Linked DNA regions of Homo sapiens: all the other regions are linked to region 3. Evidence: fine-mapped expression QTL. A gene starts in region 3. Each other region holds a variant in brackets. All regions are shown on one strand. Distances are between the middles of the regions.

Region 1 (10,248 bases), 41 kb before region 3:
GTCCTAGCACCACAGGGTTGGGAGCAGAGGGAGCGGAGGGCGTTTGCCCCTGCCCCGGGCATCTCTGCCCTCATTCGCTCTGGGGCCCCCCGGCAGTGCCACTAAGGAGGCCAGGCCCTGTCCAGAGTCAAATCTCCACTCAGTGTTGGGTGTTTCTCCTCTGGCTGTAAACAGGGTGTTTCTTAAGTAAACATTTAGTATACTCCCTCAGAAAGGCAGCCACAGGGGCAAACTATGTCCAGGTGGGAGGAAAAAAATTCCCATTCTCCTGATCCAATGCCTCTGGGACGAGACGAGGCTAAGGCCTGCAACCTTAGTCCCCAGTGCCCAGAGAAGGTTCAGACGGGGCCAGTCTCGAATGAACAGACTGAGGCATCCTCCTGGCTAGAGGTAAGAGGCAGAGAGTGTGCACCTGTCCAAAGCACAGTTTTTCTGTCCTGGGCTATAGCTGCGAGTGAGTGCCCTGGTGGTGGTGGGGAGATGCGGACCTGGCTACAGCCCTCAGGAAGAGGGTGTTGGGGGTGAGGGTGATCCCTCCCCCGTGGCTCTCTGGGAATGAGAGAGAGAGTGAAAGAGCAAGTGACAGAGGACACAGATAGGGAGAAAGAAGCCATGCACTTCCAGCTGAGCCAGGAGGCCTGGCCAGGGGAGGACAATGGAATAAGGCACTACGATCTGTCCTGCTGATTCTTCTGACGGGAAAACCAAGTTCAGATCCCTAACAGCCGAGGTCAAGAGTCCCCCTCCAAAGGGCTATCCTTGCCACAGAGCCGAGGAGAACAAATGACTGCCGTTTGAAGTTTTGAATACTACTAGAACTTGGGCAGGTCCTACAAACTTGGTGGTGTTGAGACGATGCACCAGAGAGCTGCTGGCAGCCTGAGACCCAGTGAAGACGCAGGAGGGGGGACGTGACAGTGAGTGGAAGCTGGTCCACAAGGGGACAGTGGAGAGTGGCACTGAAACTACAGGTGCTACCCGGGGCTGAGCCACGGCCAGTTCTCTCACCACGGCGGAGCCCGCTGAGTGCCTGAGGTGGGCAAGTGTTTGAGAAAGCAGGGGAGGGGTAAGAAGCAAGGGCAGGCACTTGGGGCTAAAACGCTGGCCTGCATTTATGCTATGGAAAGAGGTCGTGCCACTAAGCAAGAACTGGAAGATGAGGGGGCATGGAGGCTGGCGACCCCTACCAGGCTGCCCACCTGTCACCTACAGGGGTGCTGTTTCTTGCTACTCTGATAGCAAGAAAAATAACAAAGGGGGAGCACGATGGCTCCAAGAACTTTTTAGTTAGAGCTACTAGACCTGGGGAGGGAAAAAAAAGAAAATAAGGGGCTCATTAGGCTGGAGCCTCACTAGGGATGTTACAGTGTGGGCTGCAGCCAGGGAGAGGGGGGTGCTGGGTTTGGGGACTGTTTTTGCCCATTTGCTCATGTACAGAGAGACAGCTGCCCCCAAGGAAAGGCAGGGTGGCGGGCGGAAAAGGAACCGTGTACTGCAATTAGGGGATGCTGCTGTTCCCACCCTCTCGGATACAACTCAGTGCACTCAGGAGGCTGCCTGAGAAGTCAGAGACAGGAGAGACAGGCAGTCACAATGGGTTTTGGCTTAGGAAGGGAAGGGCCTGGTTATCACTGTGGGATCCTGCTAACAGCAGCCAACCTTCTGCTCACAAGGAAGAAAGTTTGGTGTTGAGGGGGGTGACAGAAGGCTGAAAGAATGTGAGCAAACATATTGCTGAGCCTGGCCTGATGCACTGTTCTCTCCCAAATTCTCAGGGCCAAAGGATTGCCGCTTAGCAGGTAAAAGCCCCTGCTGCCTTGGTCACATAGAAACGGAAATGCCCGCCAACCGTCTCCCCTATCAATCCTATGCTGGTTTAGGTGAAACAGAAAACAAAAATGAACACAAAATGATTCCCTTCCCCCTCCCCAGTGGCCCTATACTATTTGGCCATAATGGGGTGAAAAGCCTTCGGAGTGGCCAGGCGCGTCCAGACAGAGGGACAACACAAGAGCATTGCCCCTTCTTGCAGGGGGAGAACAGATGGGCTCAGAGCAGCAGCCCAGGGGGAGGGAAGCTTCCCCTAGGGAGGTGCGAGAGTGTCGCTGGAGAGTGCAAGGATGGCTGCAGCAGACAGGCATGGGTGGCGGGGCTGAAGTGTCATGGCTGGGGAAGCCTGAAGGTGGCGAGCCCACAAATGGGCCCCTAACGCTGCAGGGGGTCTACCCAGTTCCACGACACCTCCCTGCTCTGGGCAGGTCCGCTGTTTTCCCATTGGATACGTCTATACTGAGGGCAGGCACCTAACAGTAAGTCTCCAGGGGTGAGGGAAATGGCGCTTGACAGTGTGTGTCACTGCATATGACACCATGGACCCCGGCACACAGGGCACGCCCTTCACTGTGAGAACACGACAACGGCAGCCAGTTCAGGACACCCTGTTATCATGGCAAAGTCACAACCAGATCTTAGGGCCTCAGGCCGTCTCTGTGACACCTGGACACTATGGGACACATCTGGGAAGATGACAATCCAGGAGGCAGTTAGGTGAGAAGCGCTGACCTCACGGCAGTGACAGATGCCTGCTGAAGACCCAGCTGTGTTCCACACAAGAGTTTGGCACAACAGTTTTTCCCAACAGAAAGGCAGGGATGGCTGCTCCACCGCCAGCAAGAGCGAGATGGTCGCCCTCCACCCTTACCTCCTAGTTCCCTGCAACACAGGGCAGAAGAGGAATGGATTCCCACCACTGCAAGTCCTGGTGTGGCCTGGGGCTCTCAATAGCTTAAACACAACAAAGCCTGGAGTTGAGACCTTCTTAGTTCTCCTGGCCAAACCCTGGCCTTCCTCTTCCAGGCGGTTCTTCACCTCTGATCATCTCCGAGGCCCAAGGGCTAGCCAGGGCCAGCCCACCAAGGAGTCCAGGAGTTCCTGCATCTGGTAGGGAGGCGTGGCCCAGAGGCCTCCTTGTGTCCTCACGCCCCGTTCCAGAAGAAACCCCCAGATTCCCTATGGGGAGGCAGGCCTTCTCTAGGGAAGTGAGGTGTCATAAGTAGAACTGAGAAAAGTATAAAGAAGGAAGACAGAGGGAAAGTGAAGGACAAAACCAAAAATAGCTCCCTAACCCCTTATAAAAAGTAAAAGTGAAATTTACACATATGCCTTGCCCACATTGAATTTCTTTAAAGAAATTGGTGCCTGTCCACAGCATTGTGTCCTGCTCTTCTGAAGTCTCAATGGTTTAAATTTAAAAAAAGGAAAGAGGAAAAAAAAAAAAGAAAAGAAAAGGAAAAAAATAAAGCAAAACTAAAAAGAAGCGGGGAAACCCAAACAAAAGCTTCACATTGCCGGATCCAGCTGTCGGGAGATCGCCAACCGGCCAGGCCACCACCTGTACCCTCTGCCGTCCTCTGGAGGAGACGTGGTGAGACTGTGGGTCCCGAGGAATCGACCTGGAAGACAGAAGGCGGGTAAGGAGGGGACATTGGTCAGCAGGCCTGGGCACCAGCCCTCAACCCAGAGGAACACTGAAGCTGTGTGTGCTGGGGGCTGTGGGGCAGAGCTCTAAAGAGATGGGGTAAATCTAGCTTCACAACCTCCCTGGTCTTATTCACACATGCTTATTTTTCAGATAGGGAAACTGAGGCTCAGGTTAAGTAACTTACCCAAGGGCACACTGACTAAGGGGCAGACACTAGCTGGGAACCCAAGCTTGCTGGCTCTAGCTGTCAAACCAATCTTGAACCCTGGCTTCCCCGTACTATTAGGAGCAAGACACCGCAGGGCCCACCCTGGATAGTCTGTCCCCACAGACCTTGCCAGCACTGCTTCCACTCATGCTTTCTTCCCCACTCTCTGTGATTAATTGTGCTGTTTGTTAGAAACGCCACAGCAACCCTCTCTAGGTTCAGTAATCCTGTTTTACAGAAGAGAAGAGTGAAGCTCAGGCCTCTGAGAATCCGAACCAGGCTACCTGCTCAGGTCTTAACATGGGCCAGAATCCCACACCCAGGGGCAGGGCTGGACTGGGCCTGCACTGTCTGCTGCAGTGCACTGTGGGGGTTAAGAACGAGGGCTCTGGAGCCAGAACGGGCAACTGAGTAAACAGGAGCTGCCCCTCGACTGTGGGGGAATTTAAGTCCTCTGTTCCCTGGTCTCATCACCTGTACCTGCGTCACAGGCTATTATGAAGATTAAATGAACGTAAAACCAAGAAGAGTGCCTGATCCTATTAGTGTTGGCTATTATTTGGAAACTGCCTTAGTGCCAGGCCTCAGGAATAAGACAAGAAGCCTGCCCTTCAGTGGCTTATTCTACTGGAGGCCTAGAATACAAGGGCCCACAGAGATTAGTCTTGGGCAGCGCCCACTCTGAGCTATCGGATCAGTGCTAAGTATAGCGCTGTCCTGGGCAGGGCGGGCCATCTAGGGCAACAGTGCTCCAGCCTCGTTGCACATGGAATCATCTAGGAGGTTTTTTGAGACAGGGTCTTGCTCTGTCACCCAGGCTGGAGTACAGTGCCTTGATCACAGCTCACTGCAACCTTGAACTCCTGTGCTCTAGTGATCCTCCCACCTCAGCCTCCTGAGTAGCTGTGACTACAGGGCACATGCCACCACGCCAGGCTAATTTTTATATTTTTAGTAGAGACGACGTTTTGTCATGTTGTCCAGGCTGGTCTTGAACTCCTGGGCTCAAGTGATCCACCTACCTTGGCCCATCTAGGAGTTTTTAAAGTGCCCGAATGACCAAAGCAGACAAGTCTTTCACTGTGCGTGCCTTTCTTTGTCAGGCAGAGCCAGCACCGTGGCTGCCATGACTTGCCACCTGTGCGGGCTGACAACACCAGCTCGTTGTCCTCAGCTCCTGGGAAGGGACCTGGCCAGTCCTCCCAAGAGGCAGCAGGATAGGACAATATTGGATAATTTACTGTCTGTTGGCCTCAGTTTCTCCCTCTGAGCACTGGGGACTCTTGGTTGAGGTCTGGGTGGAATGACTCAGGTTCCTGGCCCACAGCAGGGACAAACATACTCAATGACTCTACCCCTTCCTGGCCAACTGTCCCCAACCAGAGACTATAAACGTGTTAAATCTGAACAGGCCATGGTTCTCAGCCACGCAACCACTGAAAGTGTTTCTGGCTGGTGAGGGTGCCCCGCACACTG[C/A]TGGAGGAGGGGATAAGGCTTCTGGAAGGTAGTCTGGCACTGTTTTTAGGGCTTCAAAGGTGTTTAGATTGGTAGCTCCCTGAAATTCTACTCCTGAAAGCCAAGCTTAACAGATAAACCTAAATATGAAAAGAACTTTATGGATAAAGAAGTTCACTGAAATATAACAACTCACAAGTCCAAAAATAAGGATTAAGTAAGCAAATGATCCTTCAACGCACTGATATACTACAGAGGAAATGAGATCATTGCATGACATTTTGAAGATTATGACAAAAGCACTTCCCTGGGGTAGGTGGAAAAGGGTAGGTTACAAAGTTGTGTAGCGCACAGCATGACCATAACTATGTAAAAACACAAACCCCTCAGTGTAGGAAAATCTGACAATAAATACACCAACATGTTGTGCTTGTTGTGACTGGATTTTCCTCTTCCCTCACTTCTGATTTTTAATAATGAACACACACCAATGTTATATTTTAGTTTTTAATAGGAAAAATAGGGTACTTTAATGAACAAGAAAAGCTGGCAGCTCCAATAGAAAGGTCCAGATGTGGGGTCTTGTCTGGACTCTTCCATGCCCAGTGGACAAAGGAGAGCTTCCACACTGCCAAACGGGAGGTTAGACTATGTGACTCCCTGCTCTACTGCCCAGGGAGCGGGTGACCAAGAAAGTGGGTGTGGCTGATCTGGAAAGAAAATACAGGATTTCTCGGGCCCAGTCTTTCACTCTGCTGCTTCTGTTCCTTGGTCTGTTAATTCCCCTCAAAAAAATCCACTTGTGGGTCTTGTATCCCAGTTTTTGACTTGGAAAAAGAAAATCATCATAAACATATTCCCTGATGATTCAGCAGCCATCTCAAACTCTAGCTCTATTTAGCATGCCTATTGCTTTCTCTCCGTGCTTTCCGTAGACACAGCAGATCAACCTGAAGATGGGGGAAGAGGGTATTTAGGGTAGGCCCTCACCATCTGAGACATTAAGACCTTGTGAAATACGATGAGAAATTATACAGCCACATGTGATGTGCTAAAATAATCTTTGGGACCAGTTATGACTTTCCAGCATTCCTTTCCTCCCTCCCTGCGGACAATCTCCTGAAAAGGATGCCCATCAGCAGGAAGGTAGCATGTGGCAGCTGAAAAGCAGTGTTGGCAAGGAGGCAGGTTCAGAAACCAGAGGTTCCTTTTTACATAATAAACTAGCAGAACACAGTGTGACTACAGAAGGTCAGACCAACAGCACAGCACTCTGCAAGAACTCCTGAGACACCAGCTTGTAATGACCGCTGTAATCACTGGGTCCCATGCCAGGAAGTGAAGCTGACATTTCCCAAAGGCTCCTCCCTGCTCCCTCTAGCTCTGGCACTGGCTCTGGCCCTCCTGTTGGAAGCCTCAGAACAGCCTACAGGTCTGAGTCTGGTTCTCTCTTGTGGGCACAAAGAAGGAAAATAAGAGGGCTCTCTACTGGGGAGAGGATCTTGGCTTGGGGTTCTTTTCCCATCTGCCATCACAGAAAGAGCATTTTTCCCAGGGAGCTAACAGCACAGTAAGCTCACCGAAGGTAGTGGAGGCGCTTTCTGTAGCTATGAACAGGAATGGCTCAGACCACATGGTTCTGAGTTTAAGCACAGACCCTCCCAGGTACTTGTGGGCACAATAAAGGGTGTAGGTCTCAGCCCCAGTGGGCCCTTGGGGAGGCCTTAGGCTTGTGGTGCTTCATCCTAGCAGATGCCACATCTCAGCTCCCTGACTGCTCAGGCTGTGCCTGACTGCCTGGCTACCAGCTTCTACCGGGGCTCTTCTCATTCCTCTCTGTGGAACCCCTACCTCTGACCAGAGCCCGCTCCTTGAGGGCAAAAATCACACCTGCTAAGCATAATGAAAAGTGGTGATGTGATAAACCTGCAACTGACATCTGTAGTGCCCTTCCATGATTACTGTGAGGAGGGATTTGGCCAGTTTTCACAAGAAAACAGGCCCAGAGAAATGGAGCAACTTGCCCCACACCAGAGTTGCTGAGCAGTAGAACCAGCACTTAATCCAAAGTTTTCCAGCTTTACTACCCAAAGTCTCTGCACTATGATAGTCTTCAATCAGTGCTTCCAAAGCCGGCTCAGCAATGGTTCCAGTAGCTTGCACCTGAGATGACCTTGGGGGTGGAAGGTGTCAGTGATCTGGGAAAATGTGCTATGAATCCTTACCTTTCTCATTTCAGCTCTTGGACCAAGTTCTCTCAGTGCACCCCACCTTCTTATTTCTCTGTAACTGGCGTAACAGCAATCACTTATTGAGCAGTCTGTCTGTGCAAGTTCTAACTGTGTTATAGGCAACAACCTCGTAAAGCAACACTGCTTTCCAATCACTGTTAAAGGATCGAGTGTTTTACATCCATTGCCTCATTTCACCCCAGCAACCCTAAGAGGTAGGGGTTATCGTCCCCCTCGTCTTAGAGATGAGAAAACTGAAGCTCAGAGAGAACAGCCTCATAGACAGTAAGTGGTAGAGAAAAGGGTTTAACTCAGGGCAGTCTCACTCCAAATCCCCTGCTTTTGACATGTAACGATGCAAAATCCCTTCCTAGAGAAGACAAGAAGAGTCTTAAGTGGAGTTTAAAACCCATCTAATCCCTTCATTTATAAATAGACTCACTCAGAAAAAAGGCTCATGGAAGGCTTACGTGCCTGTGCACAGGTCTAGTGCTCGGGGGACAAAAGGGGACATGGTGCCAACCAGGCAGTGAACGGTCTTCCAGCAAGCTTCTCTGCCAGTCAGGCAGGTGTCTGGTCTGTTTAAGAAGACTGAGAAACTGAACTACTTTCATGAAGGCCATTAGCAGCTTGGAGAACAGAAGCCTGGGAGATATGAGGGGAACATGCACAGCAGGATGGGGCTGGAGACAAGGATGGCTCACGTGTTCACCTCCTTCCCCTACTCCTCAGCCTGCAGGCACAGAATACCTTGGTGATTATCCCTTACTCTAAAAGGATGGCCTTCCTACTTTATTAGTGTCAAAATGTCATTACCTTTTGCTTTCTTTTCTAAGACACAGGGTCTCACTCTGTCACCCAAGCTGGAGTACAGTGGCACAACCATAGCTCACTGCAGCATTAAATTCCTGGGCTCAACAACCCTCCTGCCTCAGCCTCCTGAGCAGCTGGGATTATAGGTACATGCCACTACACCTGGCTAGATTTAATTTTTATTTTTGTAGGGACGGGGTCTCATTATGTGGCCCAGGCTGGTCTCAAACTCCTGGCTTCGCTCATGCAATCCTCCTGCCTTGGTCTCCCAAAGTGCTGGGATTATTACAGGCATGAGCTACCATGCCTGGCCTAAAACATCATTTCTTTGATGAAATGATGATGAAAGTAAGTAGGAATGGTTTTAAAAATTGCTTCCCTCCTGGACCTGCCTCCCCAGTTTTTAAAATTGCACCATCTTAGGAAATGTGGAAGTCTGGTAACCACGAGGTTTATCGTCACTCCAGTGCTCCCTCAGGGAAGAACACAGGCTCTATGGCAGACAGTCCTGGTTCAAATGCAAGCTCTGCCATTTACTAGCTACTTCCATGATCTCCTTCTCCTAAACTAGAAAATGGGCATGGAACTCTTTCCTCTTCAGGGGCCTGCTGTGAAGAGTGAAGAATTCTTCAAGTAAATTGCCTGTCATGGCACCTGACCCAGGGTGGGGCATTCAGTAAGATCGATCTTGCTGTCATTCATGTTAATGGTCATTTTGGTTCTTAGGGTATCACAGACTGGGACTTCAAACCCAAAGCCCAATTTTCTCTTTCTATCCTGACTCTCAGATTTAGTTAATAGAAAAGAAAGTCATCCCATTGGCATACTCATAGACTAAGGTACAGTATAAACTCAAAGTGGGGTATTATTGGGTGGCTAGCCAAGAATTCACTCCTACCTAAATTCACCCGCAGTCCTGTGTAGTGGCATTATCACTGTAGCTAATGATACCTATGACATGCTAGCTGCCGTGCAAACTGAATATGCAACACCTCATTTGTCCAAAGGACCATGTAAGAATTATCCTCATTTTACAGATGAGCAAACTGAGGCTCAGGTTATTAATTTTCAGCATATCGTGCTGTGGAGCAAGCAGGCCTCACAAGTGCACAGAGGCAAAGTCATCTGTCAGGGTCACAGACGGCAGTCCTCTCCTTCCTCTAAGTGGGGTTAGTCATTCTTCACTTGTTTAATACACCAAAGCATCTGGCTTTTCACATTCAGACATCAACATGCCAGCCCTGGGGGTTCGGTGGCCCCAGCACGAATGTCTCCTCCAATCACTCAGAGGCACCAAGGCCAGGGAGTCACGCTTCCTGATGCATCATTCCTCTAAGGCTGCACTCCCAACTGTGGTGCTTAAAGTAGGGCAAAAACAGGGATGACTGTGCTGTGAACGTGCCTGTTGTCAGGGTCGAAGGAATGGGAGTACTGACAAATGGGATAACACTGTTTTCAGTCTTCGGGTATACAGAACGGGCAAAATGTTAGGAAAAAGAGGAGCAAGAGGGCAGAGATTATACAACATATACAACAGGAGCTTCGCAGTGCTCCATGACAACCCAGAAGACCACAGGTCCACGCCTTACGACATCTGAGCCCTGACCAGGAGACCAAACCAAGGCAGCTCACCCACAGGCAGATATCCAGGGGCAGGCCCCAAATGCAGAGGAGCGTGGCTTGGAGGTGGTGTTCTCTCAAGGCATGGGCTTTGGAGTAGGAAGATCCAAAATTTACATCCCAGCTGACCTTCACCAAGTCAGGGTCCCCCGAGCCTCAGTTTGCTCAGCCTAAAATGAGGAAATGTCTACTTTGCCGGGTACAAAGACCAGTGATAGTACACATAGCAGGTGGAGTGAGGTGCACAGGAGGTACTTTAATAAGCTACAACAGTGGCTGCAAATCACATCCAAAAAAACACAAAACCAAACCCATAAAACCTCACTGCAGTCACTTGCCAGGGCAAAAATTCCAGAAAAGATGCCTTGGCCTCAAGTTGATCTTCTCTTGAGGTGACAGCCTCCCTCCTGCTTTGGGTCTTCAGCTCCTGCTGATCTGGC
Region 2 (10,248 bases), 62 kb before region 3:
ACGGTGGCATGCACCTGTAGTCCCAGCTACTCAGGAGGCTGAGACAGGAGAATTGCTTGAACCCAGGAGGCGGAGGTTGCAGTGAGCTGAGATGGTGCCAGGGCACTCCAGCCTAGTGACAGAGTGAGACTCCATCTCAAAAAAAAAAAAAAAAAAAAAAAGAACTGGGAGCCAGGATCCCTGACCCCTCCACTCTCCACCATGGGTTCCCATTGCTCCCCATCTTGGGGATTGGAAACAACACGTCCAGAGGACTTACGTGCTGCCAGCTCCTCGATAGGGACTGTGCAGCAGCTACTAAATGCTGAATCACTCCTTTTAAACCGGCATCATGAGACTTCTTTCATCCCCATTCCACTCCCTAAGTAGCATCTCGTCCCTTTTTTTCTCATGCATCTTGGACTTGGTGCACTCAGAAATGACCATGTGATTTATTGATTCACTTATTCATCGCCAGCCTCTCCCCAACTAGAAGGCAAGCTCCAGGGGAGCAGGGACCAAGTCCCTCTTGTTGACACCTGTCTCTGCCTCGCCTGCACTAGGCTTGGCACACAGTAGGTGCGCAGGAAAGGAATGATGAAGGTGGAGCCTCATAACACCGCTAGAGGGGACAGTTGTCATCTTTAGTCACCCAGTATCCTACTCCCCTTCCTAACAGTACCCTGATTTCCACATCCTGTGGAGTCTTAGGGATTTGCTACATCTCCCAAAATAAATTATAGTTCTCCCCTCCCCTGCAGAATAAATTAATAATAATAAATAATAACAATAACACTAACATTTATTGAATGTTTTCTGAATGCCAGGTACTAATGTTCTAAGCACTTTACATAGATATTTCATTGAATCTTTACCATAACCTTACGCCCAGACACAGATGCAGCTCCCAGCTCTCTTTCAGGGAAAAAGCAAGGCTCAGAGAAATGGAAACTTGCTAGCAGGTAGCAGACTGGGATTTGAACCGAGATCGACTGGCTCTGGGGGTGCCAGGCCTTTTTGCTCCCTTGTGAGTGCATTTTCCTTAGGTCCTGCCTCTCACTGCACTCATACAGCCGAAGTGAGATGTGTGACCTCACCATCTCGCCATATGGGACGTTATCGTCTGAGTGGAATGATGAAGGGTGGGAGAATTAGTGGAGATGCTAATCCCATAGTTGGGGTCCTGACAATCAGGTAACTTCTCTTCTGGTTCCTGCCTGATTCCAAGCCTGCCTCTCCAGCCTTTGCCTCAATTCTGTGTTCCCTAATAATCTCCCAATAAATTCTCCATTCTTCCAAGAACCAAAGATTCTAACAGGTACAAGAACAAGAGGGGACGTGTCAGCTCCTATTGTGCAACGAAACATCCCCTAAGTTTAATGGATTAAAACAATAAGCAGACCAGGTGCGGTGGCTCACGCCTGTAATCCTAGCACTTTGGGAGGCCCAGGTGGGCAGATCACCTGAGGTCAGGAGTTCAAGACCAGACTGGCCAACATGGTGAAACCTAGTCTCTACTAAAAATACAAAAATTAGCCGGGTGTGGTGGCGGGTGCCTGTAATCCCTGCTACTTGGGAGGCTGAGGCAGGAGAATCTCTTGAACCCAGGAGGCAGAGGTTTCAATGGGCTGAGATGGCACCACTGTACTTAAGCCTAGGCAACAGAGTGAGACTCCCTTTCAAACAAACAAACAAAAACAATAAGCAATTATTTCTAACGATTCCATGGATCTTCCGGTCTAGACCAGCTCATCTAGGATGGCCTCAGGCATCTGTCTGGCGCAGCCGGGAGGGCTCACTGCTGTCTCATGTGGCCTCTCACCCTCCAACAGGCTAGCTCAGGCTCATTCATGGTGGTCTCAGCGTTCCAAAGAGCGGCGGTGCTTCCAAGCCTCAGCTTGCATTATGTTTGTTATTGTCACCATTGGCCAAAGCAAGTCATGTGGCCATGACCATTGTCGGGGTAGGAAGAGATTTCCAAAGGGCATAGAGAGAGGAAAGGGATCGCGTGACCATTTTTACCATGTACCACTGCTGGGAATTATTAGAGGTGGTGCTGTGCTGATCACTACTGTACAAATGGGGAAACTAAGGCACGGAGCAGGAAAGCGGCTCTGCCAGCAACACATGGTGAGTTGGACACAGAGGGCTTTCGAAACCCTGTGGAATCTCTAACCTCAGCCACTGTTTAAGGCAGGGCTTGGTTTTTCTCACTCTGATGTGAAACAAGCTGGGACAACAATCTCTCTTGCAATAAGGAAAATGCAACAGTGAAACATTTGTTGTGCAAAATTAGAGTCCCATTTCCTGTGGGAAGTGCTGACCTGGGATAATTGCCTTTATGTGCTGAAAAATAAGAGACGGACCTGAAAGTGTTTTCCGGAATCCAAAAGGTGGCTTTCTTTAAAAAATCAATTACCTACTCCCACTTCAGAGAAAACACTTCACAGACGCATTTTACATTGTAAGTAGAATTCAGTGCTCCCGGCTAAAATCTACCTGAAAATTCTCAAGGACTGAGAGGCCAGACAGAGGCCCCCAATTACCTCTGCTACCGACGTTTCAGGCGCAGGACGCAGTGGCCATCTCACTAATGAACTGCTTTTTTCATCCAGAGGAAAACTCAAAAGTGTAAAATAGGCCTCGGACTTGGCTTTCCCTCCCACGCCTGGACTGCAGTCGACCGGGTTGACGCCTCCCTGGCGCGTGCTTGATGGTCACATAGGAAAGACACTGAAGGGACTCCCTTCATCTGGGTCTGCTGCTTCCGCGTCGGGCTCAGGTTCCCTCCTCCTCATTGTGGGGAATTGGCTGATGTTCCAGCAGCACTGGTTTTCTCATCGGTAGAATAGGAGCAGTAACAACACACCTAGCAGCATGCAATCGTGTCACAGTGAGGCTTTCCAGGCTGCAGTATTTTGTCTGAAGGCCAGGACGAGGGAGCTAACATTTGTCAAGCACTTCTTATGCACCTTGGGCCTCCACCTCCCCTCAGTCCCATCTGGGCTCAGTGGGCAGCGAGTGAAGGGTCAGGCTCTGGAGCAGGACTGCCTAGGTTCAAATCCCAGCTCCGCCAGTCACCTGCTGGCTGACTTCAGGCAAGTGGGTTAACATCCGTGTGCTTTGCTTTTCTCATCTGTACAATGGGGTTACCCATTGTGCCTAGCTCCTAGAGCAGATGCCCGCAGTGAGTTGCTAGTACCTGCCAAGGGCTGGGAGAAGCATATGCGTCCTTGTCCCCAGGGGACAGGAGGAGGAGTATGATGGAGGGTGCAGATGGGAGAGGAGGTTAGCTCCACCTTTCACCTATTGAGCTGAGGCACCCTTGGACAGGTGGGTGGAGGTATGGGCACATTTGGGGGAAGCAGGAAGGCACAGATGGGTAAAAGGCGTGGAGATGTCACTGGCCCTGCAATAGGGTAGGGAAAACCGTGATGGGCGCCCCTCTTCTCAGAGGAAAGTGCTATGTGACTCTAGAGAAAACAGTTTGAGATGCTGATGGGGTGGAGGTGAGCCCTGGCCTCAACCACAGCCTCTTTATAAAGGAGGTCTCTGAGAAAGGGAAGGACGACCCTCATGCTGGTGCCTCGACTGAGCCAGCAGCCCTTGGTTCAAGTCATTCCCCACTCATCGAGCCTCAGTTCCTCTCTATTTAAAATGAGGACCACAGTGTGCAGTTTCAGGGGGTGCTGTGGAGATTAGAAGTGTAACCGGTACATCAGGGCATGACACAAAGAAGGTGTTAAGAGTCAACAGCTGTGCTCCTGACACTCCATTCTCCCCTCCTCCCCAGGATGAGGGAGCTAACGTTTGTCAGTCACTTCTTATGCTCCTTAGGCCTTGACCTTTCCACAGTCCCGTCTGGGCTCAGGGGGCAGCAAGTGGAGGGTGAGGCTCTGGAGTAGGACTGCCTAGATTCTATTGTCATGGCCAACCTGTTGGCCACTCCCAGAGCTCTCCAGGCTCTGGCCACTTCTCACGTCTCCACCCTGACAGCCTGGCCCAAGAACCTCCAGCCCTTCCGAGTTCATGGGGCTCCTCCTGGCCCATCTGCCTGCTTCTTCAGCCATCTCCATCCCAATTTATTCCTAATATAGAAGCCAAGGGACCCTTTGAAAATGGAAGCCAGATCCTGCCACTCTGCTCAAAACCCTCAAAAGTACCCCTCCCTACTTGGAGGAAAACCAGGGACCATGCAAAGGACTGCAAAGCCCCTGATCTGACACCTCCGACTTCCCTTCTTCCCCTTGCTTCCTCTGCTGCAGCCAGCCTGGCCTAGACGCCCCCAACCCTCCACTCAGGGCTTCTGAACCTGCTGCTCCCCCTCCCAGCCACCGCCTGGCTCACCCCAACTCCAGTCAGGCCTCTGCTCAGCTGTCACCTCTGCAGGGAAGCTGCCCTGACGGCCTGGCCCTCCATATCCCATGACCTGACTTCTCTCTTCAAAGCTCTCCCTGCCTGATGTATACGTATACGTTTGTTTATGTATATGTATCTCCCTGTACCGGGCTCCATGTGCCAACAAAGCAGGGACTGGAGGGATGGCTGATTCTGAAGCCCCGGGAGCTGGCATGGCCTTGCTCACTGTGGACCCTCAGGGACTGTGACTACAACAATAGCTGTCACTCACTGACCTTTGAGAAGGAGCTGGACTCCTGACATGCACCGTGTCCCCATAACTCTGAGAGGTCAGTGACAGTGCTAGTCCCAGGTGGACAGAGGATGAGCTACCTGAGCCACTCTGTGGGTAGGAGGAGGCATCCGGTTGTGCCCACAGGGGCAGCTCAGGCCATGAGTCCAAGCTCAGGAAAGCTCAGAAGGCAGCGAGGCGGCACCAGAGGGAGCACCTGGAGCCCTGCGCGTGTACAGACGGGAGGATGGAGAGGCTCGGCCTCGCAGGGTCATCACTGCCTGGGTGGGGCTCAGGCCCCAGGCAACAGCATCCAGAACATACCAGGGCCTGGGCTCCTCCCAAGCTCCGAGCGTCACCCATGCAGTCTTCTTTCAGAGCCAGTGGGCCGGGTGAATGGGTGGTGGGATCTGTCAGGGCAATTAGAGAGCACAAAGCTGAAGAGCTGGCAGCTTAGGACATGACCTGGGGAAGTTTCTCTGGGCAAACACAGAATAAAGGCTTTGCCTGCCCCTCACCGCTGTCCAGTGCCAGATTATGTAATGTGTTGATGCTGCAAGTGGCGTCCTCACAGCCCTCTGAGAACTCTGCCTGCACCCCAGGAAATGAGTCCCAGAGGAATGACCCAGCTGGCTGGACACCCTCCAACCTGCCCAACTGACACACGTGCACG[C/T]GCGCGCACACACACACACACACACACATTCACACACAGACACCACTGTCCAAGGGAAAGCAGAAACCTGGCTTTGGAGTCATTCACTCACAAACTCTTTACTGAGCATCTACCATGTACCCTGCACCCTACTAGATGCTGGGGATATGGCAGCGAACACAGTGGATAAAAATGATGCCCCTGGCATGTGGGGGGAGAGACAGACAAGAAGCATGACACGCAGGTGGGATGTCACATGGTGATGTGTCCTCTGGAGAAAAACAAAAACAAAGCCAGCAAGGAAGACAGAGGCGAGGGTGTGGCTGGGCAGACATCAGGGCAGGGGCAGGGGGAAGCAGTGCAGGAGAGTGAACAAGTGCAGGGGCCCTGGGGCAGGCCTGTGTGTCCTTGCCATAACACAGCAGCTCAGGGCAGGGTGGGGGTGTGGGGAGGCTGGAACGGCGTGAGTGAGGGGAGAGGAGAGTAGAGGATGTATGCATGGTGAGGACTCGGAGGGATGGACACCACTGCAGGCTTCCAGCCAGCAGACCTGAGGGCAAGTCTGGTCCTATCAACATGCACAGAGTGGCAGCTGTGGGTCTCTCATCTACAAACAGATCTGGGGGTCCCCTACCTCCTGAGGCCATGCTCCCTCCCATCTGCAGCCTGCCCATCTATTACTTCTCCATATTTGCTCCCTCCTCTGCAACTCACCTATGCTTTCATTCTGAGCTATGGGCAGGAGGAGGTGACCTCCTGCTCCCAGTGGTCCAGGTCCGGCAGGATGGACAGCACCATGGCTGCTGGGAGAAGGAAGATGCTGCCAGGTGGGCAGGAGGGGCCCAGGTACTGGCAATCAAAGGTCAGAGCTGGTAGCTGACTCTTGGAGCTGGAAGGACCCTTCTGGACCAGCCACCCCTACCTTTCCCCTCCAGCTTTTATTTATTTATTTAAATGATGTCTCACTCTGTCACCCAGGCTGGAGTGCAGAGGCACGATCTCAGCTCATTGTAGCCTCCGCCTCCTGGGTTCAAATGATTCTCCTGCCACAGCCTCTTGAGTAGCTGGGATTATAGATGTCTGCCACCATGCCCGGCTAATTTTTGTTTTTTTTTTTTTTATAGTAGAGATGGGGTTTCACCATGTTGGCCAGGCTGGTCTTGAACTCCAGATCTCAAATGATCCACCTGCCTCGGACTCCCAAAGTGTTGGGATTACAGGCGTGAGCTGCCACGCCCAGCCTGCCCTCTAGCTTTTAATTTGAATATTTTTGTACTACAGAGAAATTAAAAGAATCATGCAATGAATACCCTTACACCCTTCGCCAAGCCTCCCTAGTTAGCATTTTGCCACATTTGTGCTGTTCTCTTGGTAGGCAGGTATGTGGCTGGGGTAGGGCAGGGTGGGAGAGAGCGAGAGAGATATCATAAAGCTTCACCCCTAAAAACTTGGGCATGCATCCGTGTATCAAGCAGAATACTACAACAAGCGGCATTCTCCCACACAACAAAAATACTAACTAAATACCAGAATAACCAAAATGTTTAACATTGTTACAAGGCTGTCCTCATACAGCTCATATTCTAGTTCCCCAAATGTCTCGATAATGTCCTTTATAGCAGTTTTACTTTTATTCTTTTCAGTACGGGATTCCATCAAGGATCAGGCACTTCCTTTGGTTGTTACATTCCTTTAGGGTCTAATCTGGAATGAATAGTCCCCACTGTACCATCGCCCCCACCTTTTTTTTCCTTTCATGACATTGACATTTGTAAAAGAGACAGCCCAGGTGTCTTGTAGAATGTTCCTCAATTTGGGTGTGTCTGATTGTTTCCTTGTGATTAGACTTGGCTAAGCATTCTGGGCACGAGATCTGCAGAGGGGAGGCTGTGTCTCCCATTGTGTTATATAAGGAGGGGCCTCCTGCCAGTTTGTCTCATCATTGGTAATGCTAAGGTGTGATCATTTGACTAATGTGTTCCCGAAGATCTCTCCATTATAAAGCTAATCTTTCCTTTTGTACATAGTAATTCATCTGTGTGATGAATTATGATATTTGAGATATGTGAGTACCTGTTTCCTCACGAATTTTCACATAGTGATTTTAGCAGCTATTGATGCCTTGCCTGAATCAATTATTGCATTAGTAGCTGCAAATAGAGATTTTTCCCATTATCCTTTCTATGTTCTTCTGTAAAGCTTTCCTCTCCCTTCCCTCTCCCCTGCTTTCGTAGTATCATCATACACAGATTAAAAAACTATTATTATTGTTCGATGTGTTGTAAATCCATTATCATCACTGTTCTTATTTGACGCTCAAATTGTTCCAAGTTTGGCCTCCAGGTAGGGGCCCCTTCAGGTGAACTCTTATGTCCTTCCTACTTTTTAAAAACAATTTGATTGAGGTATAGTTGACACACAATGAATTGCCCATATTTTAATATACGACTTAATAAGTTTTGACATATGTGTACACGCATGAAATCGTCACCGTATTCCAGGGAGTGAACACACCCGTCACAACTAATTCTCCTCAGGTATCTTTGGTTTTTTGTTTTGTTTTGAGACAGACTGTCACTCTGTTGCCCAGGCTGGAGTGCAGTGGTGCGATCTCAGCTCACTGCAACCTCCGCTTCCTGGGTTCAACTGATTTTCATGCCTCAGCCTCCCTAGTAGCTGGGACTACAGGCGCCTGCCACCACGCCCCGCTAATTTTTGTATTTTTAGTAGAGATGGGGTTTCACCATGTTGGTTGGTCATGCTGGTCTCAAACTCCTGGCCTCAAGGGATCCACAGGCCTCGGCCTCCCCAAGTGCTGGGATTACAGGCGTGAGCCACTGCCCCCGGCCCTCCTCGGGTATCTTTGTCATATTCCCCTGCAGCCCTTCACCATCTTGAAGGAACCACTGACTTGCTTTCAGTTACTATAGATTGGTTTGCATTTTTTAGCGTTTTATGTAAATAAAATCATACTCTTTGTGTCTAGTTCCTCTCCCTCAGCATTGTTACTTTGAGACTCACCCATGTTACTGCATGTATGCCTAGTTTTCCTTTGTGTTCTTGAGTAGCATTTGGCTGTGTGGATATACCACAATTCTTTTATCCATGCATTGATATGCAGATGGACAGATGGGTTGTTTCCAGTTTGGGGCTATTATAAATAAAGATGTACTTATCTAAGTCTTTGCATGAACATGGATTTCCTTTTCTTTTGAGTAAGTACCTGGAAGTGAAATGGCTGGAGTTTATGGTTAATTTTTAAGAAATTGCTGAAGTGTTTCAAAAGTGGTAATACCATTTTCCATCCTACCAACAGGGCATAAGAGTTCCAGTTCTTCCTCCTACTTACCAACATAGGTGTGTAGCAAGTAGCACCTTATTGGAGATTTAATTTGATTTTTTTTTTTTTTTTTTTTTGAGACGGAGTCTTGCTCTGTCACCCAGGCTAGAGTGCAGTGGTGTGATCTCGGCTCACTGAAACCTCTGCCTGCCAGGTTCCAGCAATTCTCCTGCCTCAGCCTCCTGGGTAGCTGGGTTTACAGGTGCATGCCACCACGCCCAGCTAATTTTTGTATTTTTAGTAGAGGCGGGGTTTTACCATGTTGGCCAGGCTTGTCTGCAATTCCTGCCCTCAGGTGATCCACCCATCTCGGCCTCCCAAAGTGCTGGGATTACAGGCGTGAGGCACTGTGCCCGGCCTAATTTGATCTTTAAATTTAAATTTAAAATGTTTACAACTTAAGTATAAAACAATTAAATTTAAATTTAAAACTTTTCAATTTAATTTTCCTTGATGGCAAATGATGTTGAGCATCTTTTTATGTGCAGTTTGCCATGCTTATGGTCTCTGGTGACATGTCTATTCAAATCTTTTGCCAGCTTGCGGGGGTGTTTTATTATTATTCAATTTTGACAGTTCTTTATATTCTTGATACAAATTCTTTATTAAATACATGCTTTGTAAAGATTTTCTCCCAGTCTGTTTTGTCTGTTTATTCTTTTAACAGTGTCCCTTGAAATGCAGAAGTTTTTAGGTTTTTTTTTTTTTTTTTGAGATGGAGTCTTGCTCTGTCTTCAAGCTGGAGTGCAGTGGCACTATCTCGGCTCACTGCAACCTCCGCCTCCTGGGTTCAAGCGACTCTCCTGCCTCAGCCTCCTGAGTAGCTGGGAGTACAGGTACGTGCCACCACGACCAGCTAATTTTTGTATTTTTAGTACAGATGGAGTTTCACCATGTTGTCCAGGATAGTCTTGATCTCTTGACCTCGTGATCTGCCTGCCTCAGCCTCTCAAAGTGCTGGGATTACAGGCGTGAGCCACTGCGCCCGGCCGAAATACAGAAGTTTTAAATTTTGATGTGGTTCAATTTATCCATTTGTTCTTTTATAAATTGTGCTTTTGCTGTCATCTAAGAGATATCTGCCAGTGCCATCGGGATTTTCTTGTATGTTTTCTCCTAGAAGTTTTGTCATTTTATATTTAAATCTTTGATCCACTTCGATTTAACTTTTGTATACAGTGTGAGGCATATATTGAGTTTATTTTTTTAAATATAGTTATCTGGTTATTCTAGCACCATTTGTTAAAAACGCTAGCCTTTTTCCACAGCACTGCCTTTGTAACTTTGTCAAAAATCAGTTGTCTAAATACATGTGGATCTAATTTTGGACTCACTATTCTTGTCTGTTGATCTATATGCCTATCTTTATGCCAATACCATGCTGTTCTGATTAATGTAGCTTCATAATACTTCTTCAAATCAGATAGTGTTAGCCCTCTAACTGTTCTTTTTTAGAGTTGTTTTGACCATTTTAGGCCCCTTTACTTTTTTATATGAGTTTTAAAATCAGCTTGTCGACTCCTACAAAAAGAGCCTGCTGAGATTTTGGTGGGGATTCCAGTGAATCTATAGGTGAGTTCAGAGAGAATTGCCATCTTAATGACTTTGAGTTTTCCGGCCCACGAACAAACTATGATTAATTCTTGT
Region 3 (10,248 bases):
TTTTAGGAGGCAGGGCCAAGGGTGACTGTAAAGGACTTTTCTATTTAATGAGAGAGCTGAACCAGGTTATCTCTACGATTCCTTCCAGCTTTAACATTACTGGGTGGTATTTGCATGCTGTAAACCCAAGGCCCCAGGACAGATCAAGACCCCTAAATTTTGGAATCCAGAATAAGCAAAGTTTAACCTGGAGTAATTTTGGTATCTGTTCTCTATTTTAAGAAGCAAAAATGATTACCTATTTACTACTTGAAAAATCCACACATTGCAAGTCAGCTTGAATGTCATTTTCATAAGCAGAAACAACACATATTTTCTTCACTGCTCTGTCTCTGAGCCCTGAACACCGTAGAGGTTCAAATATTTTAAAGACTCCAAACAACTGAAAGGGACCAATCCAATCCAGTGTACGGCCTAAAGCAAAAGATTTCATTTTTCTAGGTCCCAGTTTTAGTTCACAAAGGGAGGATGAAAACACCAGTGTTTCTGTCAACTTGGTGTGCCTGACAACACAGAAAACAAGGTGTGTTCTATGATGAAACAAGTTTGGGAAACTTGAGCAAGAACAATGTGAATCTTGAAGGGGGTGAGGGTAGAAGAGTACAGAACATGGTGTGAACTTATATAAGGCAGTGAATTCCTCCCTATGTGGAGCACTTGCTGACATTAACAGTTTGCACAGTGACCCTATGTACCTAATGTCATAGGTACATACCCACTATCTTACAATAAAGGAATGCTCCTCACAGGGTTCAAACAATTTGCTCCATGTTTTGTGCAGTCAGTCCTGGGATGAGCCAGAGGGTCTAACCCCAAAGTCCATGGTACTAACCACTATGCTATGCTGCCATGGGGTCACTTTGGAATTTTGACAAATTCTTCAGGTGAGGAAAGTCCACATAGTATTTATATGTTGAGAGAGTAAGCAAGAGCTTCAAGCTGAGGTTGAAGGTTCGAGACTGGCGTCAATGAACTGAGGACACAAGGAATAAACATTCGGCAAGGCAAATTCCTACATCCCAAGGCAATCCTGTAGTAGGAAGTCCAGACCATTCATTGGCAGTAAAGGAGAAGACTAAGAGAAGTCTGAGAATAGAAAGACTTCAAAGTAAGTGATGCGCTCCTAGAATATAGGTAAGATAAACGAATCCCCTAGGGAGTCTTTTTTTTTTTTTTTTGAGACAGGGTCTTGCTCAGTCGCCCAGGTTATAGTGCCATTGCATGATAATGGCTCACTGTAGCCTCAACCTCCCAGGCTCAACTGATCCTCCTGCCTCTGCCTCTCAAGTAGCTGGGACTATAAGCCTGTGCCATCAGGTCCGGCTATTTTTTTTTCTATTTTTTGTGGAGACCAGGGTCTCACTTTGTTGCCCAGGCTGTTCCCAAACTCCTGGGCTCAAGCCATCCTCCCACCTCAGCCTCCCAAAGTGCTGGGATTACAGTCGTGAGCCATTGTGCCCTGCTGGAAGTCTTTTCAAAACAAAAACACTCACCCTGGGGAGAGGGTAGGCTTCTCAGAATGGATGGGGCACGGATGGACTTTATAAAGTTAGACATCTAATTAAAGGACTCTAGGTGATACTGATTCATGTTTCCAACTCCACTGTCAAACAACTGACTTGCAATGGGACAAAGCGTTCTCTTGGGAAAGACTTGGGGGATCTTTAAGTTGTGCAAAAGTAACAAGATTTTGGGAAACCACCCCCTCCAAACTCACCCCAAATCCTACCCACTCTTAAAAAAGTTCATCCTCAGGGTGCAGAGAACAGCATTACGCCTTCGAAAGGATCCAGGCCTCGAATCAAGACAGATCTGGGATCCCCGTCACTTAAGCTCTGAGAAATGTAAGGAAACCAGGAGTACAGTCTAACTTCCCTTTCAAGCGGATTAACCCTGATCAAGTTATTTGTTCACTTCTAAGCCTTAGTTTATTTATAGAAAAAGGATAGAATTTACTTTTGAAGTTATTACCTAAAAATTACTTCAGCACTGAGACCACAGCTGGGACTCGGATTAGTAAACTTTCTTCCCCTGGATCCTCCTGCCTCGGAAAGTCTCCTCAAACTTTCTACCGCCTCTCTCCTCTCCAAGCAGACACTTAGCTACTGGTAGTATGAAAAAGGCTTGTGAGTACTGAGTAGTTAGGATGAATACATTCCCTAACTGCAGTTAAAACCCGGAAACTAAGATAATTAGTTCCTCCAGGACTGCAAGACCTCTTGCCTCAATGTACCCCATTTTCCTTTTAAGTAAAACCACTTCCCAGCCAGCCTCTGAGGTTAAGAAAAAGATTAAGAATGTAAAACGGAGGGAAAAGATGCCGGATGCTTTGTTATGTGACAGCTCTCAGGCCACCTGTGAGGGTTGTCAGCCTGCACCCCTCAGAGGACCAAGCCAGAAGACAGTCAGTTTGCTCGGCTGCCTGGGATGAAGGGCCGGGGGCCTCAGAGGAAAAGGCAGACGAGGAAGCCACAGGAGTTTGGGGGTTGGAGCTGGAGGGTGTCAGGAAACTTGGAACCAGACAGGGAGAGGGTGTGGGTGGGTCCAGTCAAGTTTTTTCTTTTTGTTTGTTTTGGGAGGGAAAGAGAGAGGCCCTCGGGGGTGAGGAGGCTCCGCAGTTCTGCTACTAACTGAACCCGACCCCTCCTCCACTCCCCCAACCGATCTTAAAAATAGAAGACGTTTAATAACCATAGCTCGCAATTCTTGAGCACTTATTAAGTTAATGGTTAGCACTTAAACGAGCTCTTGTTATGGAAACACCAGCCAACTTTAGGCCCAGGGACTGATCTTAGGACCTGAGAAGAGAGGGCCGAATGCCTGGGCCCAGGAAAGGAGGGTGTGTCAGGGCACAGGGTGACAGGGACCAGGTCTGAGGCCTAGGAAGGCCAGGAACAGTGTGGGCCAAGCCGTCCGGAGAGCAGGGGGTCCAGGCCCTGCGTGGGTGGAAAGGCCCGCGGTGCTCCTACCTTTCAGCGAGGTCTCCACCAGGCGCAGGTAAAGCTGCGAGCTCTTGTTGCCGTGACTCATGCGCTGGGCTAACCCATTGCGCTGCAGGACGCACTCCTCAAACTGCACGACGTTCTGGTGGCGCCGCTTGAGGCTGGTGAGGGCCCAGAATTCAGCCAGCGCCAGCTCCACGTTCTCGGGGGCGTCGCAGCGGATCTTCTTGACCGCCACCCGGGCCCCGCTGCGCCCGGCCACTGCCTCATAAACCACGCCGTAGCTGCCGCGCCCGATCTCCGCCAACAGGCTGTAACGCGGCCGCGCGGACCCGCCACCGCCCTCAGGCCGTCGCCGCGCCAGGAAGGCCTCGCCCGGGGCCTCGGCCGCCACCGGATCCATGGCCCGGGCCGCCGCCGCCGGCCTCAGCTTCGTGCTGGGCGCCCGCGGCACTGGGCTTCGCCTTTTCCGCTCCGGGCTTTGTGTACCTCTGCGGGCGCCGTCCTTCCCCGTTTCCATGGCTGCGGGCGGCGGGGGGAGCAGCAACGGCGCTGCCCGGGCCCCCCCTGCCTCATCCCTCCGTCCGGCCCTGGGACGCGGAGGAGCCGGACCTTGGATTGTGACCTGCGGGCGAAAGAATCGGTTAAACGGCCAGGCCAAGGCGGGGAGGCCAGGAGCGTAGGCCGCGGGGCGTCCCACCTCCTCCTCCCCCGGCCGCCGCGGCCCCTTTAAGACGGAAGCCACCGCCGCTGATTGAACGGGGGAGGGGAGGGGAAAGCGGGAAAGACCGAACCACTGGGCAGCAGCTCAGAGGGGGAACCGGAAAGAAAAGCACAAACTCTCCGCTCTCTCTGTTAGCTTGTCATGTAGCGATAGGAAAAAGAAGAGCCAGCAAGCTTCACGCCTTCTGAAAACCGCTTAGAGACGCGATTTGGCCGGCGGAAATATTTTTCTTTGCTTGGCCCCCTCTGTGACGCTCCTCCCCGCGCCCCGCCTTGTGTTCGCCCGGGTGTAAACAGTCCATTGAATTAAGCCCTAGCGGAGCCCAGCGGACCGACCCAAGTCCCCGAGGGCGACGGGTAGAAGGGATTGGCTGAAAAGTTCGGCTTCTCGGAGTGCGACTGGCCGAGGACCCGATTTCCCTTCCCAAGCGCGGAGGCAGTGGCAGTAACTCCAGCCTCGGCGCTGGCCTTCAGTCCTCCAACGGCGCCCTTACCTGGCCCGCGCACCTCCACTTCCGGGCGGCCCGTTTCCCCCCTGGAGCCCCTGCCTGGGGATGGTCCGCTCCGGGCCCGGGCTGCCTCCGGGACCGAGCAGCGCGGGAGGTGGCGGCCCGAGCCCGGCGTGTAGCGGATCCTTCTGCTGCCGCGGCGCTCGCTGGGGAAGCCTGGGCTCCTAGGCTCCCGTGGCTTTCCACGTGTTCGCGCCAGCTGAGCCCTTTACATAACCTCTTTACATAAGCTGCACCTCCCGCCGGCGCCCGGGCCAGCGGAGACTCCTGGTGGCCCATCCCCCGGGACGCCAGCCGAGTGAGCCCTGCACCGCCCGGTCCTGCAAAGGTCGACGGAGCAGCCGCAGCCGAGCGCACCGGCACGCCTTGCCGGGACCCAATCACTGGCGAGAACACCCAGCCAACAAAAAATAGGCGCGAAATTCCCGTGATCCGCGGCGGGCTCCGGGTCTCCGCAGCGGCCCGCGCATCACTATCCCTTCTCGCCTGATCTGCGTGAAGACCAACCGTCCGCAGTAGGCGCCTAATAAATACTGACTGGGTGATTGTCTTGGTCGTTTGATTCATAGCTCTGTCCTGGGAACCTCAGGGACTGGGTTGGAATCCCGACCTTCCCTTCTACCAGCCCAGTGATCTTGTGCAAATCATTGACCCACCCTGAGCATCCGTTTATCTAATGATCCTCTGCAAAATGGATAGAATGGGCTTTAATTCCCAGGAATGATAGACCCAAATGAAATACCTAGATGGAGGCTAATTGGGTGTGGGGCTGTTAGTACCCAAAGCTCCCATTTAGGCACAGATTTTTGAATATTTTGTTCTGTATTTTGTATTCCAGTGTAGGCCTAGTGGGTGCCCAGTGTTTGTTAACTGAATCTACAGATGTTTATTGAACACCCGTAATGTGCTAGGCACCATTCCAAGTCGCTGGGGAAAGAGCAATAGACAAGGCAGTTTCTGCCTTGGTTGAGGTTCTGTGCCACTGCAGGAGACAAACCACATGGGTGGCCTTGGGCAAGTTAGTCAACCTTCTTGTGTATTTGTTCCTTACCTGTAAGAAGATCCACAGAGGTTATACAGGTAAAGCACTTAGGACAGCCTTGCACACAATGTTAAGTATTATTAAATAAATGCACAGGATAATTTTTGCCAGTGGTAAGTGTGATGGAGAAAAAGAATGAGCTAAAGAGTGCTCACTGGATACAGGCCATTTCTTATAATGTATTTGGTCGCTGAAAACCTCTTAACTTTTTTGTGATTAAATTTCAAATTTACACATAAATTTCAAGAATCGTAAAGATCATATACTTTTCCACTAGAATAACAAATTGTTATATTTTGCTGCATATCCATATCCTCTCGTGTATGTGTATATATACACACAAATACATATTGTGTGTGGATATCTATATGGTATATACCCCAAAAGAAAGGAAATCAGTATACGGTATATAGATATTCACACACACACATATATAATGTATATATTCTTTTTTACTACATCATTTTAGAGTTTCCAACATCAAACTCCTTTATCCTAAATATATGTGTGTGTTTCCTTAAAAAAAAGACATTATCTGGCATAATCTCAGTACAGTGGTCAAAAATCAGGAATTTTAACAATGATACAATTGTTTTATTTAATACACTCCATCCATATTTAAATTTTGCTAATGGTCCCAATAATGTCCTTTATAGCTATTCCCCAGGATCCAATTCAGGATCAGACGTTGCACTGAGTTGTCATGCCTCTTTAGTTTCTTTTAATCTGGAAGGGCAGTTAGTTATCCAGCCTTTCTTTGTCTTTCATGACCTTGACATTTTTGAAGAATACTGGCGAGTTATATTGTAGAATGTCCCTAAATTTTTATTCATCTGTGTTTTCTTATTAGTTTCAGAGTATCCATTTTTCTCTCCTCCCCCACCCCCCACCAACCCATCCCTTGCTATTCTGAGAGGGTATGCATTTTTTGGCAGGACTACTGCTGAAAAAAGTTGCCTCCTCAGGGCCTTTCATCAGGAGGCACATGGCATTGTGTTTGTCCCAGTATTCGTGGTGTTAACTTCCATCATTTGGTTGAGGTGGTGTAGGAGTAGTTACACTCTACCATAAAGTTACGATTTTTCCTTCTGTAACTATTAAGTATTCTGTGGGAAGATATTTTGAGACTATTTAAATATCCTCTTCTTTAGACTCTTACCCACTGGTTTCAGAATTCATGGTGATTCTTGCTTGAAACAATTATTACAGTTGCAAAATGGTGATCAGAAGGTCTTTTTAACCATAACCTTTTTTCTATTTCTGTGAAGAATGTCATTGGTATTTTGATAGGGATTGCATTGACTCTTTAGATTGCTTTGGGTAGTATGGACATTTTAACCAATGTTGATTCTTCCTATCCATGAACATGAAATATCTTTCCATTTTTTGTGTGTCCTCTTCAATTTCTTTAATCAGTGTTTTATAGTTTTCATTATAGAGATCTTTCATTTCTTTAAATTAATTCCTAGGTATTTTTATTTATGGCTATTGTAAATGGGATTACTTTTTAAATTTCTTTTTCAGATTGTTCACTGTTAACATATAGAAATGCTACTGATTTTTGTATGTTGATTTTGTATCCTGCAACTGTACGGAATTTGTTTATCAGTTCTAACAGTTTTTTGGTGGAGTCTTTAGGTTTTTCCAAATATAAGATATAATATGCAAACAAGGATAATTTAACTTTTTCCTTTCCTATTTGGATGCCCTTTATTTCTTTCTCTTGCCTGATTGCTCTAGCTAGTACTTCTAGTACTTCTAGTACTGTGTTGAATAACAGTGGTGAAAGTGGGCATCCTTGTTGTATTCCAGATCTTAAAGGCTTTCAGTTTTTCCCCATTCAGTATGGTACTAGCTGTGGGTTTGTCATATATGGCTTTTATTATGTGGGGGTATTTTCCTTCTATTCCCAGTTTTTTTTAGGGTTTTTATCATGAAACCATGTTGAATTTTATCAAATGCTTTTTCAGCATCAATTGAAATGATAGTATGGTTTTTGTCCTTCATTCCGACAGCCTTATTTTATCTTAATTACCTCTTTAAAGACCTTATCTTCAAATATAGGCACATTCTAAGGTACTGGGAATTATAACTTCAACATGAATTTGGAGTGAGGAGGGACACAATTCAGTCCATAATAGCCTCTTTGGCATTTGACATTTGAATTGAAACCTGAATGTCAAGAACCCAGCTCTGAAACCGAATGGGAAGTCATTCCAAGAAGAAAGAAGAACAAGTACAAAAGCCATGAGATGGATACAAGCTTGTGAAACCAGCCATGTGGTAAGATTTTAAAATGGTACAACCACTTTGGGAAAAAAAAAAAAAACCAGTTTGGCAGTTTCTTATAAAGTTAAATATATGTCTACCCTGTGGCCCAGCAATTCCATGGGTCTCAGGTAAATGAAAACTTCTGTTAATAAAGCAACTTGTATAGGAATTCACAGTGGCTTTTCCCATAAGAATTCCAAACTGGAAAATGCTGCAGTGTTCAGCAATAAATGAATGGATAAACAAATTGTGGTATTCCCATACAATGAAATGTTGCTGAGGGTGTGTTGATGGGGGGAGGAATAAAGTATTGATACAACAGCATGTATGAATCAAAATAATTATGCTGAGTGAAAGAGGCCAGGCACAAGAGAGTACCTGCTAGATGATTCTATATACAATTCTTAACAATACAAACTAATTTGTAGTGACAGAAAGCAGATCAGTAGTTGGGGTAGGAAGGGTGGATAGAAAACAAAAGGACATAAAACTTTTTGGGGTGATGGGTTATCTAGACTGTAGTAATAGTTTCAAGATAGGAATATATTAAAACACTTCAAATTGTACCCTTTATATTAGGTGTATTTATGTAAATCAGTTTTACAACTTAATAAAGCTATAAAAAAATTGGAAAAGAACACATACTATAATTCCATTAATATAAAGTCAACCAACAATAGTCTAGAGTGGCAGAAATCGTATCAGTGGTTGTTTTTCAGGTGGGAATTGATTGCTGAGGGCCACAGGGGAATTTTCTGGGTGATGGAATTTTATTGTGTGTAAATTGTACCACGACAAAGTTGAATTAAAACATAAAAAAAAAAAAAAAAAAGCCAAAACCCTGTAGCTGCGAACACTTGTGTCTTTACTTAGAAGTTTCTAAGGACAGAAGGCTGCATTGTGTGGCCCTGGCCCCATTCCTGTATCACTGGCTTCGTAGGTTTAGCACAGCCAGCAGTGTCTTTCCTCCTGGCTAGTTTTCCTATCTGATTTTGTTTTGTTTTGTTTTCTAATACACATATACATGTTTTTATTTTGTTTTTAGGCATCTTACCTATTTATCCATCTATTTGAGAGAGGGTCTTGCTCTGTTGCCCAAGCTTGGAGTGCAGTGGCATGATCATGGCACACTGCAGCCTTGACCTCCTGGGCTCAAGTGATCCTCCCACCTCAGCCTCCTGAGTAGCCGGGACTGTGGGCACATGCCACTAGGATTTTACCATGTTGCCCAGGCTGGTCTCGAACTCCTGGCTCAGCCATCCTCCCACCTTGGCCTCCCAGAGTGCTGGGATTACAGGCATGAGCCACTGCACCCGGCCTATTTACTTTTTATAATTCCAGCTTGTTTTTTTAGATTTTGGGGTACCTGTGCAGGTTTGTTACATGCATATATTGTGTGATGCTAAGGTTTGGGATACAGTTGAGCCCATCGTCCAGGTAATGAGCATAGTAACCAGTAGCTTTTCCACCCTTGCCCTTCCCTCCCCACCCTAGTAATACACAGTGTCTACTCCTGTCTTTATGTCCATGAGCACCCATTGTTTACTCCCACATATAAGTGAGAACATGCGGTATTTGGTTTTTGGTTTTCTGTTCCTGAGTTAATTTGCTTAGGATAATGGCCTCCAGCTGTATCCCCCACCTGAATTTTGAGAGAGATTGAATATGAAGTTCTGGGAGGACCACAAGGAGTGTGAATCCTTTTATATGCTGTTAAGAGGGCTGGACTGCTTGATAAATCATTTGATGCCTTGACCAAATTTTTAGTTTTTGTTTTTGTCTTGCTTAACTTATGGAAGTAACCTATACTTTACTGTTAGGACTAATAGCCAACATTTACTAAAGTTTTCTGTCTGCCAGGCACAGGGATTAACAAAGAATTACGACAATTCCATGAGGTAGTGACTTTCATTAGCCCCATTTTACAGATGAAGAAACCGAATGTGAAGCTGGCACAGCTGGGTTTCAAACTGAGGCCCCAGACACTCCACATCTCTTGATCGCACTCAGCCCCTCCCCAGGCTAAGCAGTGTAAACGTTACAGCGAGCCCTCTTCTACATCTTTCTTGTTGACAAACATGCCTGCCTCAGTATCCCTGGAACCTCAGACAGTACCAAACATCTGACTGAGCTCAATATTTAGTGATAGAAGAAATGTAGAAGAGAAGAGCAGCAGTGAGGTTTTTTGTTTGTTTTTTTAAATGGAGTCTCACTCTGTTGTCCAGGCTGGGGTGCAGTGGCATGATCTCGGCTCCCTGCAACCTCTACCTCCTGGATTCAAATGATTCTCCTCCTCAGCCTCCCGAGTAGCTGGGATTACTGACACCTGCCACCACACCTGGCTAATTTTGTGTGTGTGTGTGTGTTTTAGTAGAGATGGGGTTTCATCATATTGGCCAGGCTGGCCTCGAACTCCTGACCTCAAGTGATCCATCCACCTTGACCTCCCAAAGTGCTGAGATTTCAGGCGTGAGCCACCGTAACCGACCAAGCAGTGAGGTTTTCAGCCCTTTTAGCAGGCCAGGGATGCGGAAGGAAGTCCTTTCTCTGCTGAGCACAGAGAGCTGCATGGAATGTCACATCATTGGTTGTGCTCTCTACACTCAAGGAGTCGCTGACACTGGCTGAATAAAGCAATGGCTACACTTTTACTGTAAGAAAAGTCATTCATTTAACATTTTTTGAACCCTTACTCCTCTATGTGCAAGGCAGTTTGGGAGCTGATGTATGGGGATGAGCAGGAGAAAACTCAGTGTCTGCC

What was found.
Region 1: its variant is fine-mapped to the expression of STK35 in whole blood (TOPMed, PIP above 0.99). The same link has a PIP of 0.9 or more in esophagus mucosa.
Region 2: its variant is fine-mapped to the expression of STK35 in whole blood (INTERVAL, PIP above 0.99).

What each region holds. Positions count from the first base shown.
Region 1 is chr20:2,136,988-2,147,235 of GRCh38, reverse strand. It overlaps STK35 (serine/threonine kinase 35), which reads right to left. Exons shown (of 4, transcript NM_080836.4): 4 at 1-3,452. It overlaps LOC124900458 (a long non-coding RNA gene), which reads right to left. Exons shown (of 2, transcript XR_007067499.1): 2 at 5,638-10,248. Among named protein-coding and RNA genes, the nearest start is that of STK35, 40 kb to the right of the region's middle. RefSeq lists an enhancer at 876-1,539. The variant C/A (reference allele first, on the strand shown) is at 5,166.
Region 2 is chr20:2,157,621-2,167,868 of GRCh38, reverse strand. No RefSeq gene overlaps it. Among named protein-coding and RNA genes, the nearest start is that of LINC03086, 44 kb to the left of the region's middle. RefSeq lists an enhancer at 4,315-4,815. The variant C/T (reference allele first, on the strand shown) is at 5,283.
Region 3 is chr20:2,096,087-2,106,334 of GRCh38, reverse strand. STK35 (serine/threonine kinase 35) reads right to left here and starts at 4,508. Exons shown (of 4, transcript NM_080836.4): 1 at 4,160-4,508; 2 at 2,970-3,567. The coding sequence starts at 4,453. RefSeq lists silencers at 3,093-3,142, 3,163-3,692, 3,983-4,032, 4,043-4,332, 4,433-4,622 and an enhancer at 2,779-3,747.